Homo sapiens: one gene and its partner. The protein of the gene in region 1 binds, or shares a complex with, the protein of each later gene. Each region holds a gene or a part of one and is shown on either strand. Other genes may lie near its edges. A codon is read from its position in the direction of its gene.

Region 1 (9,878 bases):
CTGGATACACTTGATGCACCCGAAGTGTTGTTCATTTTATTCAATGGATATTTAATAGGATCTACCATGTGCCTGGCATTCTACCAAGCGCTGTGGCTGAAAACTAAGACACAACCCTTCAAGGACCTCATGGTCTGTCGTCCTACCTTGTCAGCCAGCTCACTACCAGACTTTCAGGAAATGCAATTTTGCATGTCTCATGGAGGGGACACCCTTACTCTAATTCAAGACTATATGTGGGCCAGGTGTGGTGGCTCACGCCTGTAATCCCAGCACTCTGGGAGGCCGAGGCAGGCAGATCACGAGGTCAGGAGATTGAGACCATCCTGGCTAACACAGTGAAACCCCATCTCTACTAAAAATACAAAAAATTAGCCAGGCGTGGTGGCAGGCGCCTGTAGTCCCAGCTACTTGGGAGGCTGAGGCAGGAGAATGGCGTGAACCCGGGAGGCAGAGCTTGCAGTGAGCCGAGATTGCGCCACTGCACTCCAGCCTGGGTGACAGAGCGAGACTCCATCTCAAAAAAAAAAAAAAAAAAAAAAAAAAGACTATATGTGATTTAAAATGCAGAATAGTAGATTATGGTAAATTATTTTGATTCTCTTAGATGGAAAGGGCTGCATCCAACTAGAGAATGTTTATACAACTTGTCTCGAATCCTGGAATCCCGTTGCTGAAAGGAACTCCTTAAAGACGTTTCTTCCTGAACAAGAATTAGGGTAGAACAGAACAGGCCGGCTACGGTGGGGAGTGAGTGTGAAGAGTCAACCTCCTGGGCTGGCAGTCTGAACTTAGACCTTTTCCTTGAAAGCCCACCTCGTATCAGGCCCCAAGGGATCACTGAGTGCTAGTTAGAGTGAATTAAAATGACTGAGAAGCAGCAAAATAAATTGAACTGACTTCAGATTTTTAAAAATAGAAATGTGATTTTGTTTCCTTAGACATAGGCACTAGCTAAACATTGCATCTTTAAAGAGTTAAACATGAATGCGGGGAGGGGAACTTCGGGTCAGGGTAGTGGGAGGGAGATCTACTTTTCCTAGTCTATGTAGATAACTTTTTGTACTGTTCAATGAGTTGTCATGTGTATTATGGGAAAAAAAAAGTGCAGGAAAAAATTACACACTACAATTAAAAGTTACCCAAAAGAGGCCAGATGCGGTGGCTCACGCGTATAATCTCAGCACTTTGGGAGGCCGAGGTGGGAGGATCACTTGAAGTCAGGGGTTCGAGACCAGTCTGGCCAACATGGGGAAACCCTGTCTCTACTAAAAATACAAAAATTAGTGGGGTGTGGTGCCTGCCTGTAGTCACAGCTACTTGGGAGGCTGAGGCAGAAGAATCGCTTGTACCCCAGAGGTGGAGCTTGCAGTGAGCTGAGATCGCACCACTGTGCTCCAGCCTGGGTGACAGAGTGAGACTCCGTCTCAAAAAAAAAACGTTACCCAAAAGAAAGAGGAAAGATTAATGCATGTAGATAAGAAGCACAACTAATTAAATGTCTGGTGAAGGATTTGTAATGACCTCATCAGTGACTGTTAAGCAATGTTTTTACACTGATGGAAACCTAAAATGTGAGGGGTATTTTTTCCCCTCCTAATTATCCATTTCTATTGAATTCTGGTTTATCTTATTACTTTGCTGTAAGAAATTCTTAAGAGTTGAGTGCACAACCCATCTTTGGGTCACTGGACTTGACAAAATGAAGTTATCTCCTGCCTACCAGATTCTTCAAGCTCCCTTAGGACTCACAAGCGCTGCTGCCAGGTACCCCTCTGGTGTCCTTATCACCCGTTCCATGAACAAGGCCATCCTCTGACTCCCCTTTATCCTTATTATATGGAAACAGCAAGAGAGAGATGCTTATTGTCCCTGGTAATATCATTTCCTAGATCCTGCTATTTTCACTTCCTCCATCTTCCCCATAGGAACTATCTTTATTGAAGCTGAATTACCGCTGAGCTCCTTCAGCCTTTTTCATACGTTTTTCTTTTGAGGTGCTCAAAGCACTTCACTGCTATCATCTTATTTATCACTTACTGGCCACAAGAGTAGAATGGAGTAGATAATTTTCTACTTCTATAAGCAGAGGTTGAAGCAAAGTGGTAATAGTAAAAATTACTAGCACTTAGGAAGTGCTTTCTAAAGGATAAAAACATTATCTCATTATGTCTTCAAGATGACCAAATGAGGTAAATGTTTCTGCTGTCCTCATTTTATATGTGAAAAAACAAGAGTTAAAGAACTTAAATAACTGGCTGAAGGTCAGACAGGTAGTAAAAGACCTAGAGGACACCTTGACCCCAAATCCCAAGCTGTTCCAAGGTCACACGCACGGAGACACCTCCGTCATTGAAGGCAAAGTCCATTAAGCCTGCTCAGCTCCAACAGGCGGGGCTGGTTGCTCCGGCAGTCCATGGTTTGTTCCTTCCTTCTGCAAAATTCTCCCTTGAATCTGTGCAGACTGCGAAAAGATGCCTTTTGAAAGCACAAAGGAAAGAAACTCTGACTCTCTCACATTTTCTAAACTTTCACATTGGCTCACACTGTTTGATGGAAGAGTCTGTGTGCCCTCCGTAGCAGCTTCTCACAGTTCCTCAACCACCGCCGGATGTTTTCTAGGGGGACTGGCTCTGGAAACCAGGAGCGTGTGTGCCATACACACTGCCCACACTGACCCCAAGCATCAAGCCAGCACACCTGTCAAGGCATGGGCCCGGCATAAACAGCAGGTCAGAACACGCCACGTGATGTCCTCTGTTTGCTCGACACTTTCGAGTCACTTTTACCACCATTATCCCCTTCGATCATCACCCTATGAAGTAGGCAGGACAGCCATTGTTCTATTTCACAGCTGAGGAAACTGAGGCTAGTGCAAGGTCAGCAAGTGGCACAATTGGGACCAAAATCCAAGTCCCCTGGTTCTTGGCACCTGGCTCAGTGCCCCTTCCCCGAGCCCTTAGTGCTGCTGTGACTCCTTGTCCTCACTGCCTGCAGCATGTATTTTAGCATTTGATATTGTCTTCTCAGACTCTTAGTGATTTCTGCTGGAGGCTTGTTACCGGGTGGTGGGAAGATGTCTCTGACCTGAGTTTCAATCCTGTCTTAGTTTCCTTATCACTTAAATTAGGATATTGCTGCTACTACTACTACTAATAATAATAATAATCAGTACTAACAATATAAAATTTGTTTTGAGAATTTAAAATATGTAAAGTGCTTAGAGTGCAACCGCTCAAAGACCATTACTAAATGTAATTTTTTCCCAATTAGACTGAAAAGTCACCAGAACAGAAACCATTTCTTTTTTTTTTTTTTTGAGACGGAGTCTCGCTCTGTCGCCCAGGCTGGAGTGCAGTGGTGCAATCTCGGCTTACTGCTAGCTCCGCCTCCCAGGTTCATGCCATTCTCCTGCCTCAGCCTCCCGAGTAGCTGGGACTACAGGTGCCCACCAACACACCTGGCTAATTTTTTTTGTATTTTAGTAGAGAAGAGGTTTCACCGTGTTAGCCAGGATGGTCTTGATCTCCTGACCTCATGATCCACCCGCCTCAGCCTCCCAGAGTGCTGGGATTACAGGCATGAGCCACCGCACCCAGTCGAAACCATTTCTTACACGTTCCTTATATTTCTCCAAAGGTTTACCACAAAACTAGCCATACATTTGAGACACATAGGCAGACACCACTGTGGAGGAATTTAAGCATCCTTTGCGCCTGTCATACCCCAGTCCACTTTCTGGGAAGCTTTCCTCAAGGTTCCCCTCAGCCAAACTTTGAAACAAATTAACTTCTCTCTTTGGCCCTCTTCCTTTCTCACCTTTCTGGGGCTTGTCTCCACCCTCATTCCCTCTGTTCCGCGTCAGTCCAATTTCAGTCCCTATCATGATTTCTACTCAGCTAGTACCTAATTATTGCTGCTTATTTTCCTCAAAGGTCCTTGTATTGAGCCTGCATGGGATAGGAGAAGAGCTTTGGCCTTTAAATCACCCCCACAAGGCTCCATCACTTGCTAGGCACAAACATTGGGCATTTACAACCTCTCCAAGCTACAGTTGCAGAAGAGGAATTAGAATCCCTGCATGGGATTCTAGCTGCCTCCCTGGAGGCTATGAGGTCAGATGAGATGCACCTAGAAATTCTGTGATAGGCAACTGGAAGTAGCCCCAAAGACCTAAAGTAATGATTTTTAACAGAAAATGTCAGGTAATTAAATAACATGTGGGGAAGAAATCTCGCTGAATTATCACGCATGTTACACCAGTATATGATCTAATTGTGCCTTTGCCACAAAACAGTAATTTAAAGCCATTATCAATTACTTAAGAGGTAGGTCGTGTGAATGGGTTTCAGGCCCTTGTCGGAGACTAGTTTTTGAGAGGGGACACTGAAAGTCCATGAGGGGCTGCACCTGGAGAGGTCACCACCAAGTGAGAAAATGACAAAGAACCAACCCAAGAAGAGCCAAGAAGAAAATTCCATCCGTCACTTATATTGATTCAACATAAACAGTTATACCCTCTGCTCCTAAGCAGCTCACTCTAAGGAACGCACTGGATAGGTAAACTCAGCTAAAGCAAGTTAAATGGAATACATGCTGTAATAGAGGTGAAGGCATTGTCCTGAGGAGCTGAGAAGGAAGAACAACTGATTTTGAATGGAAAGATGAGGAAAGTCTTCATAGAGATGGTGACGCCTGAGCCTGGTCTTGAAGAGTGAGTGACTTCAATAAGTAGAGAAGGAAGAGGGAGATCAACTCTACTACCATTCTGTACACATACTGGGTGTTGACTGATGTATTAGACAATTACACAGACATCCAGGAGGAGAATCAGACTCTATGGCAAGCTGGATCCTTGAAAGACATCTCAGCATAGATTTAAAAATCACAAAGTAGAAGGCATGGAAGAATGTGACTATCACCACAAACATTCAAAGGTATTAGTAAGGCAAAAGGGAAAATAAAGACGGTCCAGGTAGAGAGAGAGAAACATGTGTTCAGCACAGGTAGAAGAATTCCAGGAGCTCAGAGTGCCCCATACAGGCAACAAGATGAAGCAGGAGGTGAATGACTGTATGTGTGTTGGGGGCAAGAGAGGATGTCAGAAGAAACGCTGAATATGCAGAAATGAGGCTGAATTTAAGAGTGCTGAAGTTATCACCACCCTTAAAATCAATCCAGGGAGGTTTCATGAAGGTAGGTTTTCAGGAGGTGCTTGAAGGTGGGAATTGGATGGCAATGAGTCTTTGCCCTGCCTGTTTTTCTCCATAGGTGCCCTGATGATCAGATCAGAGGATGCTGGCTTTGTGGTGATTACAGGTGTGATGAGCAGAAGATACCTCTGCATGGATTTCAGAGGCAACATTTTTGGATCAGTGAGTTTCTTTTTTGTGTTGGTCACCATTTGCAAACAATTAACCTAATTTCTTTGACACGACATAGACTTTTCTAGCTTAACAATTCCATTTGCAGTGTACCCTGGTGACCTGTTTCCACTGATACTTCATGCAGTCTAAGTATGAATTAAACGTGAATGCTCACGTTTAATAGCTGGGGTTTGAACTCAGGCAATCTGGCTCCAGATCCCAGGCTCTCAGCCCCTAGTCTGCACTGCCCATTGGAACCCACTTTTTTTTTTTATTATTATACTTTAAGTTTTAGGGTACATGTGCACATTGTGCAGGTTAGTTACATACGTATACATGTGCCATGCTGGTGTGCTGCACCCACTAACTCATCATCTAGCATTAGGTATATCTCCCAATGCTATCCCTCCCCCCTCCCCCCACCCCACAACAGTCCCCAGAGTGTGATGTTCCCCTTCCTGTGTCCATGTGATCTCATTGTTCAATTCCCACCTACGAGTGAGAATATGCGGTGTTTGGTTTTTTGTTCTTGCGATAGTTTACTGAGAATGATGGTTTCCAATTTCATCCATGTCCCTACAAAGGACATGAACTCATCATTTTTTATGGCTGCATAGTATTCCATGGTGTATATGTGCCACATTTTCTTAATCCAGTCTATCATTGTTGGACATTTGGGTTGTGGAACCCACTTTTGAATCTAGCACAGGCCCTGGTATGTAGTCGTAGGTCCTCAAGTCATGTCAATTCACGTTGTAAAGTACATTAGAAAGGGTGAAAAGCCATTGGTGTCTTCTTGATTCTGGGACTAGCTGTGACTTTGGGTAAATCTCCTCACTTCTCCAAACTTCAGCATTTTCACTTGGAAAAAGCGAAGTGGAATAGACCACGTGACCTGTGGAGCTCCCTCCAGTTAAAGATTTTTAATTAATAACCCCTGCCCCAATTGTGATAGCTATTCATTCGGATTGGTAAGCAAAGGATTTCCCAAACTAAAGGCTGCTGGCCTCTTTTGGAGGATTTTGAGATAGTAAAATAGTAGGACTGCTTATCTCAGGAGTCTCTGACCACCACACATGCCCACTAGAAACTCCACAAGAACAGAGACTTTCTGTTTTGCTTTCTGCTGCATCCCAGCCCCTACAATAGTGTCTGGCTAGAGTAGGTAAACAAACAAACAAAAAATCTGTTGAACCACTATTGAAATATAGATAACTAACTAAACATCCGTTAACCCCTCTAGGCATGTAGATAGTCCTGATCTGTAAACTGCTTACTTTGTGGAGCTTGAGGATTAAAAGAAATAACAGGCAAAGGCCTTCGTGGGGCACTCAGTAAAACCCAGTACTAGTGGTAGAGGATTCAAACCCAGCTCATCTGTCAGCAAAGTTCATGTCTCCAATCCCGTCAGTGCTCTCATTCATGTTTGACCCTATAAACTCCATCCCCTCTCCTTTCTCCAGTAAAGAGACAAACCCAAGCCAATTTTCAGCCAGCAGAGGCTTGGAAAAGATAGAGGGCAGGAAGGACAAGGTGGTGCCTACTCCAGGAAAACCACAGGCCAGGCCAGCCCGGGCCTCCAGGCAGTAAGCGGAGGCCCCAGTAGTCGTAGTCTCTGAAAGGGCGAACTATATAGTCAGGGCTTGAGCATTAATCAAAACCACTCTACCCCAGCAGGGAACAAAGGGGTGAAGGCTCAACGCCCTAAGAACTGCAGAGCTTCAGGCCGGCTGGCACAAGCATGTGGCCCCAGGAGGAGCTGGGGAGTGGGTGGGGCCCCCACTGCCAGCCTTCACGTGGTTCGCTCTTGTCCTTCCAGCACTATTTCGACCCGGAGAACTGCAGGTTCCAACACCAGACGCTGGAAAACGGGTACGACGTCTACCACTCTCCTCAGTATCACTTCCTGGTCAGTCTGGGCCGGGCGAAGAGAGCCTTCCTGCCAGGCATGAACCCACCCCCGTACTCCCAGTTCCTGTCCCGGAGGAACGAGATCCCCCTAATTCACTTCAACACCCCCATACCACGGCGGCACACCCGGAGCGCCGAGGACGACTCGGAGCGGGACCCCCTGAACGTGCTGAAGCCCCGGGCCCGGATGACCCCGGCCCCGGCCTCCTGTTCACAGGAGCTCCCGAGCGCCGAGGACAACAGCCCGATGGCCAGTGACCCATTAGGGGTGGTCAGGGGCGGTCGAGTGAACACGCACGCTGGGGGAACGGGCCCGGAAGGCTGCCGCCCCTTCGCCAAGTTCATCTAGGGTCGCTGGAAGGGCACCCTCTTTAACCCATCCCTCAGCAAACGCAGCTCTTCCCAAGGACCAGGTCCCTTGACGTTCCGAGGATGGGAAAGGTGACAGGGGCATGTATGGAATTTGCTGCTTCTCTGGGGTCCCTTCCACAGGAGGTCCTGTGAGAACCAACCTTTGAGGCCCAAGTCATGGGGTTTCACCGCCTTCCTCACTCCATATAGAACACCTTTCCCAATAGGAAACCCCAACAGGTAAACTAGAAATTTCCCCTTCATGAAGGTAGAGAGAAGGGGTCTCTCCCAACATATTTCTCTTCCTTGTGCCTCTCCTCTTTATCACTTTTAAGCATAAAAAAAAAAAAAAAAAAAAAAAAAAAAAAAAGCAGTGGGTTCCTGAGCTCAAGACTTTGAAGGTGTAGGGAAGAGGAAATCGGAGATCCCAGAAGCTTCTCCACTGCCCTATGCATTTATGTTAGATGCCCCGATCCCACTGGCATTTGAGTGTGCAAACCTTGACATTAACAGCTGAATGGGGCAAGTTGATGAAAACACTACTTTCAAGCCTTCGTTCTTCCTTGAGCATCTCTGGGGAAGAGCTGTCAAAAGACTGGTGGTAGGCTGGTGAAAACTTGACAGCTAGACTTGATGCTTGCTGAAATGAGGCAGGAATCATAATAGAAAACTCAGCCTCCCTACAGGGTGAGCACCTTCTGTCTCGCTGTCTCCCTCTGTGCAGCCACAGCCAGAGGGCCCAGAATGGCCCCACTCTGTTCCCAAGCAGTTCATGATACAGCCTCACCTTTTGGCCCCATCTCTGGTTTTTGAAAATTTGGTCTAAGGAATAAATAGCTTTTACACTGGCTCACGAAAATCTGCCCTGCTAGAATTTGCTTTTCAAAATGGAAATAAATTCCAACTCTCCTAAGAGGCATTTAATTAAGGCTCTACTTCCAGGTTGAGTAGGAATCCATTCTGAACAAACTACAAAAATGTGACTGGGAAGGGGGCTTTGAGAGACTGGGACTGCTCTGGGTTAGGTTTTCTGTGGACTGAAAAATCGTGTCCTTTTCTCTAAATGAAGTGGCATCAAGGACTCAGGGGGAAAGAAATCAGGGGACATGTTATAGAAGTTATGAAAAGACAACCACATGGTCAGGCTCTTGTCTGTGGTCTCTAGGGCTCTGCAGCAGCAGTGGCTCTTCGATTAGTTAAAACTCTCCTAGGCTGACACATCTGGGTCTCAATCCCCTTGGAAATTCTTGGTGCATTAAATGAAGCCTTACCCCATTACTGCGGTTCTTCCTGTAAGGGGGCTCCATTTTCCTCCCTCTCTTTAAATGACCACCTAAAGGACAGTATATTAACAAGCAAAGTCGATTCAACAACAGCTTCTTCCCAGTCACTTTTTTTTTTCTCACTGCCATCACATACTAACCTTATACTTTGATCTATTCTTTTTGGTTATGAGAGAAATGTTGGGCAACTGTTTTTACCTGATGGTTTTAAGCTGAACTTGAAGGACTGGTTCCTATTCTGAAACAGTAAAACTATGTATAATAGTATATAGCCATGCATGGCAAATATTTTAATATTTCTGTTTTCATTTCCTGTTGGAAATATTATCCTGCATAATAGCTATTGGAGGCTCCTCAGTGAAAGATCCCAAAAGGATTTTGGTGGAAAACTAGTTGTAATCTCACAAACTCAACACTACCATCAGGGGTTTTCTTTATGGCAAAGCCAAAATAGCTCCTACAATTTCTTATATCCCTCGTCATGTGGCAGTATTTATTTATTTATTTGGAAGTTTGCCTATCCTTCTATATTTATAGATATTTATAAAAATGTAACCCCTTTTTCCTTTCTTCTGTTTAAAATAAAAATAAAATTTATCTCAGCTTCTGTTAGCTTATCCTCTTTGTAGTACTACTTAAAAGCATGTCGGAATATAAGAATAAAAAGGATTATGGGAGGGGAACATTAGGGAAATCCAGAGAAGGCAAAATTGAAAAAAAGATTTTAGAATTTTAAAATTTTCAAAGATTTCTTCCATTCATAAGGAGACTCAATGATTTTAATTGATCTAGACAGAATTATTTAAGTTTTATCAATATTGGATTTCTGGTCATTCTAACCCTAAAGTGTTTTCTTTCTTTCTTTCTTTCTTTTTTTTTTTTTTAAGATGGAGTCTTGCTCTGTCACCCAGGCTGGAGTGCAGTGGCGCGATCTCGGCTCACTGCAACCTCTGCCTCCCAGGTTCAA
Region 2 (9,878 bases), on another chromosome or scaffold:
TAATGTTTACCCATCTTTGCATTCCTGGAATAAATACTAGTTGATTGTGCTGTATAATTCTTAAAATATGCTGCTGGATTTGTTTTGTTAGTATTTGGTTGCATTCTTTTGCATCTATATTCATAAGGGATATTGATCTGTAACTATTATTTTCTTGTGGTGGCTTTATCTGGCTTTGGTATCAAGATAATGCTGGCCACATTGGCTAAGTTAGAAAGTGTTCTTTCTTCTATTTTTTGAAGAGCTTGAAAAGAGTCGTGTTAATTCTTCTTTAAATATTTGGTACAATTCACTATTAAAGCCACTAGTCCTGGGCTTTTCTTAGTTTGAAAGTTTTTGATTACTAATTCAATCTCTTTTACACCTAGATTAGATTTTGTATTTTTTCCTTAGCCACTTTTGGTAATGTGTGTGCTTCCGGGAATTTGGCCAGGTCATCTCTGTTATCTAATTTGCTGGCATCCAAATGTTCATAATGTTCTCTTGTAATCCTTTTTATTATAGAAATGATATACAGAAAAGGTCAGTTACCACTTTCTTTTATGATTGCATTAATTTGCTTCTTTTCTCTTTTTTTCTCTAGTCAGTCTTGCTAAAGGTTGGTCTGTTTTGTTGATTTTTTTCAAAGAACCAACTTTTGATTTTGTTGATTCTATAATTTTTCTGCTCTGTATTTTGTGTATATCCATTCTAATTTTTATTAGTTCCTTTATTCTGTTAGCTGTGAGTTTAGTTGGCTCTTCTTTTTTATTTTCTTAAGGTGGAAGACTAAGTTATTGAGATATATCTTGTTTTTTTTTTTGATGTAGGTATTTAAAGCTATAAAATTTCCTCTGAGCATTGCTTTTGCTGCAATTTATAAGTATTGGTATGTTACATATTCAGTTAGTTTTTTATATACACATTTAAGCTTTTGCTAATCTACCTTGTGATTTCTTCATTGACTTATTGCTTGTTTGAGTGTGTCAACAATTTCCACGTATTTGTGAATATTCTAGTTTTCCTTTTGTTATTGATTTCTAGTTTCATTTCATTGTGGTAAGAAACAATACTTTTTATGATCTCAACAGTTTAAAATTTATTAAGACTTATTTTCTGGTCTAACATATGATCTATCCTGGAAAATGTATCATGTGCACTTGAGAAAAATGTATATTCTGATTTTTTTAGGTGGGTGGCATGTTCTATTAATATATATGTCTGTTAGCTCTAGGTGAATTATAGTGATGTTCAAAGCCTCCATTTTGTTATTAATATAACCATGCCAGATTTTTAATGCTGTCCATTTGCATAATATGTCTCTTTCCATTCTTTTTCTTTTACATGATCACTTTATATTTATAGTATATTTCTTGCACACAGAATGTAATTGAAACTTACTTTTCTAAAATCTACTTTCTTTTTTTTTTTTTTGAGATGGAGTCTTGCTCTGTTGCCCAGGCTGGAGTGCAGTGGCACAATCTTGGCTCACTGCAATCTCTGCTTCCCGGGTTCAAGCAATTCTCCTGTCTCAGCCTCCCGAGTAGCTGGGATTACAGGCACCTGTATTTTTAGTAGAGACGGGGTTTCACCATGTTGGTCAGGCTGGTCTTGAACTCCTGACCTCGTGATCCACCTGCCTTGGCCTCCCAAAGTGCTGGGATTACAGGCGTGAGCCACTGCACCCAGCCCCTAAAATCTGCTTTCATAGCATCTGTCTTGTACTTGGAACATTTAGTCCATGTGTATTTGAATATTTATTGATATGTTTGGGTTTATGTTTACAATCCTGCTATTTGTTTTCTTTTTGTTCCATGTGTTTTTTGTTTTTTATTTCTGCATCTTTTGGAAAAATCAGATTTTTTGGTAATTCATTTTTCTTATTTTATTGGCTTTTTAGAGAAACCTTTTAATATCTTTGTGAGTTTTAGGGATTACATTATTTATTCTTATTATTATTCCATTTAGAATTAATATTGTTAATCCCATTCAAAAATTTGTTTATTTCGCTTTTCAGTTCTAGAATTTTCATGTTTTCTTCAGTTGTTGTTTCTCTGTTGTTATTCTCCATTTGTTCATTATATCTATCTTTTCTTTGAAATCCTTAAAAATATTTATAATAGCTATTTTAAAGTCCTCTGCTAATCCCAATGTCTGGGACATCTTGGCTTCTGTTGATATTGAATACTTCTTTTTTTCCCCTTAATTAAGGGTTTCATTTTCCTGCTTTTTCACATATCTAGTAGATTTTTATTATGCTCTGTGTGCTATGAATGAGATATTATAGGAAGCCTGGTCAATATTGTCTCTTTTTAAAGGGTGTTGTATTTAGTTCTGCCAAGAAGTTAAATTACCAGATTTACTTGATGTGGCTTTAGTCTTTGTTAGAGCTGGTCTATTCCTGCTTTGTTCTTACTTCTCAGGTAATGACCTTCCTGAGTTTCAGCTGGATGCCTGAAGTGCTCAGCTGCATTTTTCTACTCTGGCTATTCTGAAATGCAATATTTTCCAGACCTACCCAACCTTTGGTATTCATCTCCCAGACCTGTGGCTGCTTCTCTTTGCTGAGCCTCACAAAATCTTGTCCTGTGCATGGACAGCCAAGGATCCTTGGGAAATCTCATGCAGACTTCTAGGTCCTTCCTTTGTGTAGATTTCTTCTCTCCAGTACGTTGACCTGCTTCAGAGTCCTCATCATTGCTTTCTTCCTTTTCAGCTCAGCAATACTGCTGTGTATTGTGTGGGCTTCATTTGCCTCAGCCATACCTAGAACACAACCCAAGGCAGAAAGCTGGAGTGGACCTGAGGCTCATCACCTGTTTCCTTCCACCCACCATTTAAAAGCAGCTTATTTGTGTGAAACTTTTTGTTGGGTTCTGTGGGGGATACGTATAGGCAAATGACAGGGAGCTTATAATTTAGCCAAAGAGAAAATGTCTATATGTTCTGTGGAATTCAGAGTATTTTCCTCGACTTCCAAAATTATTTTCCTCGACTTCCAAAATTTGGGGCTACTAGCTAGTTGGTAGGAAGGAATTCCAGATCCATTTTTCTTCTAGATTTTTTTCAGACTCCATGTTTCAAAATCTAGATGGAAGGTAAGAAGGAAGCAAGGAGGGCATCACATACGAGAGAGACTTATACCCCAAAGTGGATCATTAGCACATTATGAGATAATATGGTATTATTCTCAGAGGCCTGCCATATAAAATTCCTTCTAATTTATTTTTTAATGGTATGTGCCTGAAAGTTTTCTGTCTTTCATGATCTTGAAAGCAAAATAAGAACCAGAGTAGCTTATGAGAGAGTTTTCCTGCTTCAGCCCAGAAAAATGTTGCTTCTGTCCTAGACCCTTTGATCTGGTTCTTAGTGCCAGCCTTCATTCCTCTAGATCTGTTTATTGAATACTGGCTCTGTTGCAGAGACTTTGCTAGAATCTGAGAGATAAAAGACTCAATGCCTTCAAAACACCTACAATCCAGACACTTAAATAAATGCAATAATATATGGTTAAGGTCTTGGATAGAGGACCATCATAGAAACACATAGAACAGACATTTAGTCCATGCTAGGGAGAGGGAAGATGTCAAGGAATGCTTCCTGGAGGTGGCGACATCTAAGCTGAGTTTTAAAGTGGGTGTAAGAGTGAAGGAACTGGGAATAGGCAAAACATACCTTAGAGAGCTGCACCTCCAAAGCATGGAAGGCTAGATAATCTTAGAACTTCAAGTGGGGTTCAATGTGCCTGGGACTTGGATTTCAGGCAGAGACCATAGGGCAAGTTGGAGAACAGGTGGGCAGGGTGAGATGAAGCAGAGACTTTTAATAACCATCAAACAGGCCTGCCATCCAACTGCTATCAGCCATTTTCCCTTTTTGAATTTTATTTTTTTAATCTCTAGAGCAATACATGTTTATGGTAGGAAATGAAAAAAATATATAGATGGGTAAAATGAAGTGAATTATACCACCCACAATCCTGCTGTAAAACAGGTTTTAACAAGTTATAAATCCCTCCAGATCAAAGTGCTACTAAACTCTACTTGCTATTTTATAACCTTTTTCTGTTCAGAGTATTTTAGAAACGTTTTTACATGTTAATTGATATTCTTTTGCATTATCCTGAATAATGGTATTTCTTTAGTTATACTATCATGTATTAAAACATTCATACATGGTAAACATATTTGAATATTAGACATTTCAATTGTTTTCAATGTTTGGCTATTAAAAATAGTATTTAGATGAATGTTCTTGGCCATACAGTTAATAACTTCACTGAGTCCTTGTCAATAACTTTATTAAATCCCAATCTTAAGACAACAAGCCTATAAGATTAACATACCAGGAATAATTAGAAAGCATTGCAAGACTATATGTAACCATCTCCCTGTTAATCATCCTTATTTGTTGCAACATCCTAAATAGCGACCTTCCCACACTCTGCCTCATAATATTTAATCTGTCAAATGTACCATCCGCAAAGGGAGTGAACTGGCTCGTGAAGAGGTGGTGAAGCTGGTTCAACTCAGTTTAACAGACAATGAGGGCCTCCGTGTGCCAGGGAGGGAGTGAGGGAACTCCACAGGGAGCTCATTCTGGGGAGGGATGCCCCTCATTATCTGCAGTAAATGATATTAGAGAAGTATGTGTGAGACTCTTGGTGTCCAGAGGAGGGGCATGCAGCACAGTATGGGGGTCCATGGGGTTGCAGCGATTTCTTAGAGACGGTGCCATGCCTGGGATGACCACCAAGTTAGGATGCTGTAAAGAGTAATCAAATAAGTTTCAACAGGGTTTTGGCATGAGGTGAGCAGTTAATCCAAATGATATCTGAAATGCTTTCTAATGCTGCAAGTGTATTCCTCTGTAAAATAATCAACTACTTAAAAGACACTCTCACTTGCATTATGTCATTTAATCCTCACAGTGTCCCTACGGGACAATAGATGTCATTCCCACTTGTACAGAGCAGTAAGTGAGGCTCACACCGGTCATAGTTAGAGGAGTAGGGAATCTAAACCTAAGTCTCTTCTACTCCAAACCCCAAGTTTTATCAGTATGTCACATCGCTACTGTGGGCTGAATTCCTTAGCAGGGGTTGTTTCCTCCACCTGCAATATTCTTCCTTTTGGTTTGTTCATCCTCTAGAGAGAGAAGGGATACGCATTCATGGAGATCCTACTGTTGCAAACTCTGCATTAGGAGTTTTACATGAATTGTCTCATTTAGTCCTCACAACAGTCCTGTGAGGCACAGGAAAGTTAGATTTACCTGCCCAAATTAAGGAATGTGGCCAACTCAAGAGTGACGAAGGCCAGGTGCGGTGGCTCATGCCTGTAATCTCAGCACTTTGGGAGGCTGAGGTGGGAGGCTGAGGATCGCTTGAGCCCAGGAGTTTAAGACCAGCCAGGGCAACACAGCAAGATTTAATCTCTACTAGAAATAAAAAAGAAATTAGCCAGGTGCCTGTAGTCCCAGTTACTTGGGAGGTTGAAGTGGGACGATTGCTTGAGCCTGGGAGGTAGAGGCTGCAGTGAGCCATGATCCCATCACTTCACTCCAGTCAGGGTGACAGAGTGAGACCCAGTCTTAAAACAAAACAAAACAAAAAAGAGTGATGGAGCAGGAACTTTATCTGCCATCAGAGACCATATATGTCTTTCCTTATGGCCCAGGTCATTTATCATGTCCTTGCTAAACCTCCTCCTCTGAGCCTTGTTAAAGTCCTCAAGGTTAGAAGAGTGGTCTATAATTATAAAAAATTCCATTGTATGACTTCAGCTACCTGCAAAACTGACCGAGATTAATGCATTCTTTGTTTGCTTTCACTCTTTCATTCCCTGTTCAGCGCTTATTCTACAGAAAGGTGCCTGGTAGATTTAGGACATGACTGTTCATAGGCCTCAAATGCGGTCAAATTAGGAAAGTCCCCTGGTTTTTGGTCTCAAGAGGTTAATTGCTGAGTACTAGCCTGGACTGCTCAATGGATTTTATGTTTAACTGTTGTGTTTATTTGTTTGTTTGTTTTTGTTTTGTGAGACATATCTTTCTCTGTCACCTGGGCTGGAGGTCAGTGGTGTGAACATGGCTCACCGAAGCCTCCATCTCCTGGGCTCAAGTGATCCTCCTGCCTCAGCCTTCCTAGTAGCTGGGACTACAGGCACACAGCACCATGACTGGTTAAGTTTTGGATTTTTTGGTAGAAATGGGGTCTCACTCTTTGCGCAGGCTAGTTGTGAACTCCTGGTATCAAGGGATTCTCCCAATGTGCTGGGATTTCGGCCTCCCAAAGTGCTGGGACTGCAGGCATGAGCCATCATGCCCAGCCTCTGTTTAACTGTTAACATCATGAGGTTTCCTTTCAATGAGGAAGGGAGGCCTGGGGAGGTGTGATGGGGAAGATGGAGAAGGGTAGGAGACATCATAAAACTGACAGAAGTGTGGCACGATTAAGACCCTGGTTTCTTAGACCACATAAGCAAGTGCCACTATTCTTTTGATCAACATTTGATTCTCTATTTCCTTCTTAGCATATAGATAGCTGCTTCAGGTCGTGAAAAAATACATTTAGTGAAATGAAACATAGTAGATATGTTCACCAAGAAACTAAAAAGAAAAGTTAGCCACAAACTATCTTATTTCATTGAAATGTTTGGCTGAACCCATAAGAATGTTGATGAGGCCATTCTTGGATGCCTGTACTGAAATGAACCACGAGAGGAATATTTAGGATATGTTGAAGAGGCTGTTTGGCTTAATGAACAAAGGAGTTTCTGCAGGCCCAGGGAGTGGAATGAAAATTGGCATGATCATTTTGGAGAATATATGGAGTCAAACAGAGAATTTGAATGGAGTTTTCAAAGAGGATATGTTAGGGGAATAAAGGCTGATAAACAACACTTGTATTTGTAGGAAAATAGGGAGAGTAAATCAAGGAATTCAAAGAGAAAGAGAAACTCACTTCAAGTAGGGGAGAAAAAACCCCTATAATTTTCACTCTTCCTTGTAAATAAAAAGGAAACAAATGAAAATAAGATATTAGAAGTCAGTAAGAATTTATGGGAGTATAAAGTTGGTTTTATGGATGCAAAGCCCTTTTCACTGCTGTACGAAACTCCTGGCTGCATGCTAACAATGGACAACTGATTTCCTTGCAGCTGTATTTTGCTGTTTTTTGCTCTTGGCTTGGACCTAGCACCCTGGGTCTGTGGGAAACCAGAACTGTCCCAGAGTTCTGGAGGGTAGGCCAAGGTTAGATGCTGGAGTGGGTTCTTTAATTTATTGTACTGATTCTTCTTGGGAAGAAAGAAGATTGCTTGTTAGAATTTTAGCTACGAGAGATGACTATGAAACAGTAAATTAACTCCAACGACCTGAGTCATTTTGAAAACTCCCAGTCTCAGGATAAAAAATATAATCCTATTTAGAAATTCCTGGTGTGATCACAGATGTAGCATTGGTTCTTTTCATGAAACCCGTAAATTAAAAAGTACATAATCCAAAGTCAATTAAATAGTAAGCTATTATAACAAATTCTTTTATTTCATTAGCTTTTCAAAATGTGGATAACTACACACTCAACCCAAGGAATCTACATTTTTCCACTGACTGCTAAAGACCAATGGAAATAACTCTAGTCCCCGTAGCACCTCACTGTGGGGTGACCTACCTTTGAAATAATGTATTGGTTCTAGCTGATTTTTATATTGTTAGTCATTAAGTTAGGCTTGATGAGAAACAGATATAATCTGATTTGGGGATTCAAGTATTATATTGCATTTCTCCTCACAACTAGAGATAAATTTGCCATGGTTTTTCTCTTCATAGGCTCATGCCAAAGTCTGGCATCTCTACAATACTTCTTTCCGTCCCACTCAGGGAGGTCAGGTGTCCATTGCCCTAAGCTCTCACTGGATCAATCCTCGAAGAATGACCGACCACAGCATCAAAGAATGTCAAAAATCTCTGGACTTTGTACTAGGTTGGTTTGCCAAACCCGTATTTATTGATGGTGACTATCCCGAGAGCATGAAGAATAACCTTTCATCTATTCTGCCTGATTTTACTGAATCTGAGAAAAAGTTCATCAAAGGAACTGCTGACTTTTTTGCTCTTTGCTTTGGACCCACCTTGAGTTTTCAACTTTTGGACCCTCACATGAAGTTCCGCCAATTGGAATCTCCCAACCTGAGGCAACTGCTTTCCTGGATTGACCTTGAATTTAACCATCCTCAAATATTTATTGTGGAAAATGGCTGGTTTGTCTCAGGGACCACCAAGAGAGATGATGCCAAATATATGTATTACCTCAAAAAGTTCATCATGGAAACCTTAAAAGGTATGATTGTGGGTAAAGTTCTCATTTCCTGCCAAAATCTTCTGGAAAAAAATCTCTAAGATTATCTAACATAAATGATGTGAATTTATATTTTTAAATCCTAATGGAGACATTCATTTTGGCAATAGTAGAATGCATTCATTTAACACCTTTCTCATTTGGAGTCTTGAGGAACTTGAATTAATTTTTAAAAACCCATTTGTAAATGAGAAACTGGGTTATAATATTTGTAATTACTTAACTTTCAGTTATTAATCTAGATTTTTAGATTAAATTGAACATAAAACAAATCCCAGGATATCTAGCTCTCTGCACATGTTTTTCAGTTCTTGTTATTTTGGTTGAATAAAACACTTTAAAGAAAAAGGAATGTCCATGTTTTCTAGAGAAAATAGTATAAATAGATCATGCTTTTAAAGCCTTCATTTATTTATTTATTGCATCAGACACAAAGCTGGGTGTCTAGGATGGAAAGTGGTACAAGACATCTTTCCAGCCCTGTAGAATATCTATTATAAATAAGGAACTATTTTTTCAAGGTGCTCAGAAATCCAAAAAACATATTAGATAGGCCAATTTTGAGGGCATTTATTTGTAGAGTTATATAGGTTTGATTAGAGTCTTTCGTCAAGAAGAAAAATCATTGGCTTACCAAACGAGAAGCATTACACTTTATTTATTTAAGTAGGAAACGCTCAGCTGCTCTTGAACCATGATGCAAGTGCCCAGCGAAGGGTCATGTTGCTCTTGTCCCCTCTTCCCTTTGCAGCCATCAAGCTGGATGGGGTGGATGTCATCGGGTATACCGCATGGTCCCTCATGGATGGTTTCGAGTGGCACAGAGGTTACAGCATCAGGCGTGGACTCTTCTATGTTGACTTTCTAAGCCAGGACAAGATGTTGTTGCCAAAGTCTTCAGCCTTGTTCTACCAAAAGCTGATAGAGAAAAATGGCTTCCCTCCTTTACCTGAAAATCAGCCCCTAGAAGGGACATTTCCCTGTGACTTTGCTTGGGGAGTTGTTGACAACTACATTCAAGTAAGTCAGCTGACAAAACCAATCAGCAGTCTCACCAAGCCCTATCACTAGTAAGTAGTGCTTCCTTCCTAGGCTGATTGTCATGGCACATTGTCCGTTCTTTGAGCCAAAAACAATTCCTTATGAGTACACTAAGGGCACAATTTGGAATGCTGCACCCTTCTCTCCAAAACTCTTCCAATCTTCATCTTGTTTAAGTTAGATCCAAAGATAAATAAATTTAAAGCATATCAATATTTAAGATCCGATTAAGACAGTAAAAAGATAAAACACTCTCTTTTCATACTGTGGTTTTTGATCCTTTTTAAGGCAGTTGAGTTTTTTCATGAACAGGATCTAACACAGAACTCCAAAGCCTCTGAGTTTCAGTGGTGCTGCTGAGACTGAGGCAGGAACATTAGGCAGAGTCCTCCAGAGGCACAACTGTGGGCTCCACAAATGTGCAGAAATACCCTAAGAAAGTAAACCCTAGATCCAATGATTCACTGGTCAGAATGTCTTTTTTAGCAATAGTCATTGA

The links.
Region 2: the proteins of FGF23 (region 1) and KL are in contact, whole or in part, in a cryo-EM structure (PDB 7YSH), measured with the Homo sapiens proteins. Residues at the interface, in NP_065689.1 of Homo sapiens: Leu39, Met74 (codon at 5,280), Ala80 (codon at 5,298), Val88 (codon at 5,322), Arg91 (codon at 5,331), Leu166 (codon at 7,366), Ile167 (codon at 7,369), Phe169 (codon at 7,375), Asn170 (codon at 7,378), Ile173 (codon at 7,387), Arg175 (codon at 7,393), His177 (codon at 7,399), Asp184 (codon at 7,420), Ser185 (codon at 7,423), Glu186 (codon at 7,426), Arg187 (codon at 7,429), Asp188 (codon at 7,432), Pro189 (codon at 7,435), Leu190 (codon at 7,438), Asn191 (codon at 7,441), Val192 (codon at 7,444), Leu193 (codon at 7,447), Lys194 (codon at 7,450), Pro195 (codon at 7,453), Arg196 (codon at 7,456), Ala197 (codon at 7,459), Arg198 (codon at 7,462), Met199 (codon at 7,465), Thr200 (codon at 7,468), Pro201 (codon at 7,471); in NP_004786.2 of Homo sapiens: Phe377 (codon at 8,119), Lys385 (codon at 8,143), Leu389 (codon at 8,155), Glu390 (codon at 8,158), Pro392 (codon at 8,164), Trp417 (codon at 8,239), Phe418 (codon at 8,242), Ser420 (codon at 8,248), Lys429 (codon at 8,275), Tyr432 (codon at 8,284), Tyr433 (codon at 8,287), Lys436 (codon at 8,296), Phe437 (codon at 8,299), Arg468, Ser471, Ile472, Arg556, Arg693, Asn694, Met695, Thr696, Tyr697, Ile735, Val752, Phe755, Asp756, Asn782, Asn783, Leu785, Ile812.

Annotation. Positions count from the first base shown.
Region 1 is NC_000012.12:4,368,091-4,377,968, reverse strand, and holds the end of FGF23 (fibroblast growth factor 23 precursor), read left to right. Parts: intron 1-5,271; coding exon 5,272-5,375; intron 5,376-7,185; coding exon 7,186-7,626; 3' UTR 7,627-9,742; downstream 9,743-9,878. UniProt on the Homo sapiens protein: Regulator of phosphate homeostasis. Inhibits renal tubular phosphate transport by reducing SLC34A1 levels. Up-regulates EGR1 expression in the presence of KL. Acts directly on the parathyroid to decrease PTH secretion. Regulator of vitamin-D metabolism.
Region 2 is NC_000013.11:33,045,958-33,055,835, forward strand, and holds part of KL (klotho precursor), read left to right. Parts: intron 1-7,809; coding exon 7,810-8,320; intron 8,321-9,089; coding exon 9,090-9,358; coding exon of another isoform or gene 9,359-9,408; intron 9,409-9,878. UniProt on the Homo sapiens protein: May have weak glycosidase activity towards glucuronylated steroids. However, it lacks essential active site Glu residues at positions 239 and 872, suggesting it may be inactive as a glycosidase in vivo.